Homo sapiens: one gene and its partner. The protein of the gene in region 1 interacts with the protein of each later gene in a biochemical or structural test. Each region holds a gene or a part of one and is shown on either strand. Other genes may lie near its edges.

Evidence for each region. The genes of interacting proteins can lie anywhere in the genome.
Region 2: the proteins of ARHGAP21 (region 1) and RSRC2 interact in a test that uses a peptide from one of them, tested with the Homo sapiens proteins (one large-scale study listed by IntAct).

The regions. Positions count from the first base shown.
Region 1 is NC_000010.11:24,721,743-24,725,491, forward strand, and holds the start of ARHGAP21 (rho GTPase-activating protein 21), read right to left. Parts: upstream 2,146-3,749; 5' UTR 1,820-2,145; intron 1,480-1,819; exon of another isoform or gene 1,415-1,479; intron 1,007-1,414; exon of another isoform or gene 744-1,006; intron 538-743; 5' UTR 158-537; coding exon 95-157; intron 1-94. UniProt on the Homo sapiens protein: Functions as a GTPase-activating protein (GAP) for RHOA and CDC42. Downstream partner of ARF1 which may control Golgi apparatus structure and function. Also required for CTNNA1 recruitment to adherens junctions.
Region 2 is NC_000012.12:122,509,822-122,513,470, reverse strand, and holds part of RSRC2 (arginine/serine-rich coiled-coil protein 2), read left to right. Parts: intron 1-2,282; coding exon 2,283-2,362; intron 2,363-3,649.

The sequences.
Region 1 (3,749 bases):
TAGTGAGGCCCCGTGGCCGGTAACCCCCAACTTGCAGGACGCTCAAGACACAGGCCACCGCCCTGCCGGCCAGGAACGCTGGCTCCGCGCTTACCTCGCAGGCCTTGAGCTTGTCACCATCTCCCTCAGACAGACCAGTCCGACGCGTGGCCATCATTTCATTTCAAATGACAAAGAAGGGACAAATCCTTTGGAGTCCACATTGGACGTGGCGGGGAATGCCACCACACACCCGAAGGGGAAGAATTCCACAAGCAGGCTCCGAGGAGGGGCAGGGCTGTTGAAACAGACAACGTGCCAGGGAATAAAGGTTTTCAGGAAGCGCCTTCAAATGCCTCGCTGATTTCTCGTGACTTCAACTGACTTCGCCTTCTTCTTCCATTTCTGGAGACTTAAAAACAAAGGCGACAGGTCTTCTTGGCAGCCAGTGTCGAGGCCAATTGCAGAAAGCGGTCCCCTTCTTCCCAGTGCCACTCCTGAGTCCTGGAAAAATCCGAATGGGTCGTGAAGGTTCGAGTGTCAGCTCCTAGAGAGATCCTAGGAAAACGAGAAGTTAAAGGTCATGAACTTTCTCCAGGCGCCTATCACTGTCTTGCCCACATGTCCACACCAAGTTCGCGTTTCCTCCCGAGCAAAACAAACAAAAAAAAATTTTAACGTAAACAAACAAAAAGCCTATAAATTCGAGGGGGTGTTTAAAAAAGAGAAATCTCGAAACTGCCCAGCGGTTGCGTCAAACACACCTGGCTGTTATGCAGCCTTCAAGAAAAAATGTTCCCCATTCAAGTGCATTTTAATTCATGTCTTTCCTGGGTAGAGCAGAGGGCTGTGCATGTTGTTTTCTGCATCACCCAGACAGGGACACTTCGGTGAAGTTTTCTCCCCCACGAGGCTGAAATGGGATCACACTTTCCAAGCCCCCTCTTCGCTCCCCTCCGCCCCCCAAAAACGCAAGCACAAAGCCAGCCTGGCTGGGGCCGGCGTGGGCTCGGCGGCGTCTCCGGGTGACTCGGGCGCCGCCCCTCCGCCCCTCCGCCCCGGCCGGCGTCCCCGAGGAGGCGGCTGTTTTCCTTGGCCCGCGGCGGGGCTGGGTGGGGACGGCCGGGGAGGCGTGCGCGGCCGCGGGTGGGACGCCGGCGCCGCTCCCGCTCCAGGGCATGATTCTGGAGCTACACCCGAGCAACTCTGAAGTCGCGGCTTTTCCCCCAACTACCACTCGACACGGCTTCCCTTCCCCTGTGGCCACCTAGGGGGAAAAAACGAGAAAAAGCAAACCACCACCCACCTCCCCACGATTCCCCCGCCCCTTCCTGAGGCGGGTCGGGGACCTCGAGCTCCCGAGGAGAGCGGCCCCAATATGGACTTTCTCAAAGGTGCTAGGAGCCCCGGGGCGAGACAAAACCGGGGGCCTTACCCTTCCCGCCCGCTCGGGCCCGGCGGCCGAAGCGCGGCGGCGAGCTGAAGCGGAGACGCTGGCCGGGCGCCGGGCCCGGCCGGGACGCGCTAGGCCGCAGGCTCGGTTAATATTCATGAGCGGCCCCAGGCGCCCCTCCTCCAAGGCTGGCCGGCCGGACCCCAGCGCCCACCGCCGGCCTTTGTGCCCTTCCCTCCGCCCCGCCGCCCGCCCTTGCTCCGCACACGCGGGCGCGGCCCCTCCGCCCCCGCCGGGCGCCCGCCGCGGGCTCCCTCCGGCCCCGAGCCAGCGCCCGGCCGGGTGGCCTGTGGCGGGAAGGGAGAGAGCCCGCGGCAAGCCGGGCACTCCACGGCCCGCGAGCGCAGCGCCCTCTCGGCTGAGACGGAAAAGAAACCAGACACGCACCAGAGGAAGCGGGACGAGTGGATCCGCACGGGGCTGGCCGGCTCCGGGACAGCGCGCCCCGCCCGCCCGCCCGGCGTGAGCCGGACCCCGCAGCCGGACGATCCCGCGCTGCCCGCCGCCGCCGCCGCCGCCGCCGCCGCGCTCCGAGGCCGCCGCCCCCGGCCGGCCGCTCCCAGGCACCGCCGCGACCTGCCCCGGCCGGCCCCGGGCTCTCGGCCGCCGCAGGAGGGCGTGGGGCGGGGCGGCGGCCGCCGGACTCTCCCCTCGCCTCGCCGGGCCGGGCCGGGGCCCAGCTCCGGCGCCCGCGAACGCCAAGTGACAGAAGCGCCTCGCTCCGTGGCCGCGCGGAGCTGTTTCCCGGGGGCGGATTTCTCGCTTCTTCCTCCCTGGATCCACCTCCTCCCACTCCACCTCCTTCCCCTCCCCTCCCCAGGGGAGGCTCTGGGGCTGAATATTTTCTGTCTTGAATAACACGGGACCGGGGAACCGACGCTGGAGAAGGGGGATTAGCCGGAGGCCGGAGCGGGGTGCTCGCCTGCCCCCTCCCCGTGGGTCGCGGGACCTACAAGCCCTCGCCCCCCAGCACCCCAAAACCAGGCACACAACGCTCCCCGCCCCTGCAGTCTCCCAAGCGCTGAACGGCAGCGTCCAGGGATGGGCTTGCTCCCGGGAAAGGAGACCTGGTGGTAGACGTCTGGGGTGGAGAGGGGGACAAGCCTATAACAGCGACATCTGCAGACTCCAGGGATCAAAGGTCCTAGATTGGGGGACAGGGCTTGGCAAATTGTGCCCCCACCCCTTTTTTGCAGCGGGAAGGCAATGAAGCTGCGACGAGACGTGGGACTTCCAGATAAGGGAGTGTCCCCTCACGCCTCACAGCAAAAATCTCTTCCTGTGGTGGGAAGGGGGAAGTTAGCCAAGCGTTGCTCATTCAGTTCTTTCCCTTTTATAAATTCTGCAGAGCGGCTGAGCGAATTTGGCGCGGCTAGCGGAACTGTGGAGAGGCGGCTGCGCTTCTCTGTCCGCCACACTCCAGGTCACAGCGGCTCCGGAGCCGCGGCACAACCGCCACCCTCCCCACCCAATTCCCGGGCCTTGTCACAGACCCCGGCAGCTCGCTCCGCCCCGCCGTGCCTCACAACATCTCCCGCTGCAAATTACCCAATCGGGAGACGCGACGAGAGAACGCGAACCAATCAGGGGCTGGTAAATCAGGCTTCCCTCCGCCCTCTTCCCCGCCCCCGGGTGAAGGCCACCGCCCCCTCGGCCTCTCCTTCCCACCCCGCCCCGCTCCGGGGAGGTGGCTCCCCGGCTCCGAGCCTCGCGGGGCTGGAGGGGGAGTTGCTCGCAGTCAGAGGCAGCGTTTGTCACCTTGTCACCCTCATCCTCGCCCCCTCCCATACACACTCCCCTCCCCTTCTCGGTGCTCCTGCTGGTGCTGTTGAGGGTCATTTTTATCCTCACTGCGGCCGGGGACTGCCAGCTATTGTGTCTGATCAGCTGCCACCGCTGTCCAGAGGGAAAAAAAGAAGAACAAAACCTAGAAACTGTGGAGTCCTCTTACCTTTTCCTTCTTTCTTTCTACACTCTCCCCTGTAGACTTAGAAACATCCCTTCTCCTTCCCCGCCCGCCCACCACCTGAGGTCCTGTTTCTTTATGGGGGACAGGGGAGCGGGGACAAAAAACACTCCCTGCAGCTGGAGTACCTGCGCCTTAGTTTTTACATCTTCCTTAAAGTGGAAGGTGCCAAACCAAATCTACAACTAAATCCTCCGCTTCAATTCGAGGGAAGACGTTGACGAGATCATTTTTATATGGCCATGAAATTTGCGTGTTCTTGACAGCCTGTCACCAAACAAGTCAGCTAATAATCAAGAAAAGAAAAATAGAATAAAATACAAGGACTGTATTTCAGTCAGATGGTAATTT
Region 2 (3,649 bases), on another chromosome or scaffold:
ACTTGGTGATCTTTCAGATAAAGTTTTAAATGTAGTTCTTTAATTTCAGAATATGAGATTATTTACTACCTTGAAATCTGGAGAATTTTTTTCTTAAGAAACTACCATGTATAGACCTTTTATATTGGTTTCTTTTTTGGCTTAAAGGTCAGGATTTAAAACTGTTTAGGAAATACATTTCAGATCTGTGACCTACTTTTTTTATTTTTTATTTTTATTTTATTTTATTTATTTATTTATTTATTTATTTATTTATTTATTTATTTATTTATTTTTGAGACGGAGTCTTGCTCTGTTGCCCAGGCTGGAGTGCAGGAGCATGATCTTGGCTCACTGCAACCTCTGCCTTCTGGGTTCAGGCAATTCTCGTGCCTCAGCCTCCCAAGAAGCTGGGATTACTGATGCGCATCACCACACCCAGCTAATTTTTGTTTTCTTTTTAATAGAGACGGGTTTTGCCATGTTGGCCAAGCTGGTCTCGAACTGCTGGCCTCAAGCAGTCTTCCCACCTTGGCCTCCCAAAGTGCTAGGATTACAGGCATGAGCCACCTTGCCAAGCCTGCGACCTACATTTTATTGTTACTGCTAATTTACAAACTTTTATTCTCAAGGACAAAGTCAAGTCTATGTTATGCCTTCCATGCATATGTGCTTCATAAAAGGGAATAAAATTATAGCTTGTTATATTTCTTTTATGTAAATTTCAACAATTTTTTTTTTTCCTTTTCCTCTTTTTTTTTTTTTGAGATGAAGTCTTGTTGCCTAGGCTGGAGTGCAGTGGTGTGATCTCAGCTTACTGCAACCCCTGCCTCCTGGGTTCAAGCGATTCTCCTGCCTCAGCACCCCAAGTAGCTGAGATTACAGGCGCCCACCACCACGCCCTGCTAATTTTTTGTATTTTTAGTAGATGCGGGATTTCACCATGTTAATAACCAAGCTGGACTCTAACTCCTGACCTCAGGTGATCCACCCACCTCAGCCTCCCATAGTGTTGGAATTACAGGCGAGAGGCGTGGCGCCGGGCCGACTTAACAATTCTTAAAGCAAATCCAATTTACTACCCCTGCATTGTATTACCCATAGTGCCCCAAAACAAAAACAAGTTTTGTCAGTCCTGTCCCCTTTATACCACATTACAGAGGGCGTTAGTGGCATTTGGCTTGATTGATAAATCAGGGAATCCTTAGGAAGAAAAGAGTTCCTCTTTCAGGAATTCATTGTGAAGATAATGTTACTTGTTATTTGCTATATAGAAAGGGTAAACTTAACATATAGCTTGTTTAGTGTGCATACTCATTAGTGAATTTAATGTATGCACACTACTCATTCAACAGAGTGAGTAGAGAGAACAAGCATTCATTTTTGGGCTGGGCATGGTGGCTCACGCCTGTAATGCCAGCACTTCGGGAGGCCAAGGCGGGCGGATCAGAAGGTCAGGAGTTTGAGACCAGGCTGACCAACATTGGTGAAACCCCATCTCTACTAAAAATACAAACATTAGCTGGGCATGGTGGTGTGTACCTGTAATCCCGGCTACACAGGAGGCTGAGGCAGGAGAATCGCTTGAACCCAGGAGGCGGAGGTTGCAGTGAGCCAAGGTCGTGCCATTGCACTCCAGCCTGGGCAACAGAGTGAGACTGTCTCAAAAAAAAATTCATTTTTGTTTTGGGATGAATTTGTGTTTCATGTTACTAGTTCCTTTGTAAATGATAAATTTGTTCAACTGCTAGAAGTAATTTCCTAATTGAGAAAAGTTTTCCTCCCATTTTATTAGATTACAGAGAATGGCAAGGTTTGCTTGACCTTTTAGTTTTGGCTTTTTGATTTTTATTAAATTGAAGACTTTACTAAGGTCTGTACAATATAAAAAATTATCCGAATGTCTTGATCGGCTGGCTTTTTCTCCCTCAAGAAACATTTAGATAATTCTATAAATTTATTTACTACTTAACCATGCTCTAAAATTTACTCAGCTTTCAATATGTTACTTGCAAGACGTAATTTTTTTCACTTGTTAATTGGAACTGCATATAAAAACTATGCCCATTTCTGACTAGTCAATTCAAAAATGTTTAAAACCACTGTTGTGGTATTCTTCAAATGTAGCTTATATCATCTTAAGAATGATTGCTTTTTCTTCACATACGGCTATCGGTGGAGGGATGCTAAAAATTTAAAATTTTATGGAAGTTGGCTTGTCTCTGTACATGCACATATAGAGAGATATATACATAATGGTTTTATATTGTGTTATTTTAAATTCATTGAAATTAATTTTGCAGGTTGGAAAGGGCAAAGAAATTACAAGAACAGCGAGAAAAGGAAATGGTTGAAAAACAAAAACAACAAGAAATAGCTGCAGGTAATTTTTTTCATTCTTTTTTAGTCATCTCGATTTGAGCTCTTTCAAGCTTTTTTGTTTTTCACAGGGATTTGCTCTGTCATTCTGACTGGAGTGCAGTGGCTCCAGCATAGCGCATGGTAGCCTCAAACTCCCAGGCTCAAGTGATCCTCCCACCTCAGCCTACCGAGTAGCTGGGACTGCAGGTCCCACATCACCATGCATGGCTAATTTTTTTCTTATTTTTTGTAGAGAGGACCTTTCACTATGTTGCCAAGACTATTCTTGATCTCGGGCTTAAGCAGTCCTCCTGCCCCAGCCTCCCAAAGTGCTGGGATTGCAGGCATGAGCCACTGCACCCAGCCTAAGTTTGACATGCTTTTTGTAGAAAAATTGAAAAATATAGAAAATAATAGGAAGAAAATCACCTATGATTCCTACTTCCCATCAGTACACTGTAAACGTGTATTTTAGTGTTCTCACTTAAGTGTTTTGTAGCTTGTTTCTGATGTGGTCCATGTGGATAATTTTTGTTGATAAATTAGTAATGAGTATGTTTGTTTATGTAACACTAGTCATCATGACAGATCTTGTTGTTGTTGTTACGGAGTCTCGCTCCATCGCCCAGGCTGGAGTGCAGTGGCGTGATCTCAGCTTACTGCAACCTCTGCCTCTTGGATTTAAGCGATTCTCCGCCTCAGCCTCCCCTGTAGCTGGGACTACAGGTGTGCACCACCACATCTAGCTAATTTTTGTATTTTTAGTAGAGACGGGGTTTCACCGTGTTGAACCAGGATGGTGTCGATCTCTTGACCTGGTGATCGTCCTTCTTGGCCTCCCGAAGTGCTGGGATTACAGGCATGAGCCACCACGCCCGGCCCCAGATGTCTTTTACGATTTTGGAAATGTAGTTTATGCAAGAAAGTGAACTGATCTGAAATATGTATTTCTCTTTCAAGAAATCAAGTTTTTATGCGTAACAAACATTGCAGATTTCAAAAATTATCAGGCCTGGCTCAGTGACTCACTTCTGTAATCCCAGCACTTTGGGAGGCCAAGGCAGGTGGGTCACCTGAGGTCAGTAGTTCAAGACCAGCCTGGCCAACATGGCAAAACCCCATCTCTGCTAAAAATACAAAAATTAGCCAGGCGTGGTTGTGTGTGCCTATAGTCCCAGCTACTCAGGAGGCTTGAACTCGGGAGGTAGAGGTTGCAGTGAGCCAACATCACGCCATTGCACTCTAGCCTGGGTGACAGAGTGAGACCCTGTCTCACGAAAAAGAAAAAAACAAAAACAAAAAACAAAAA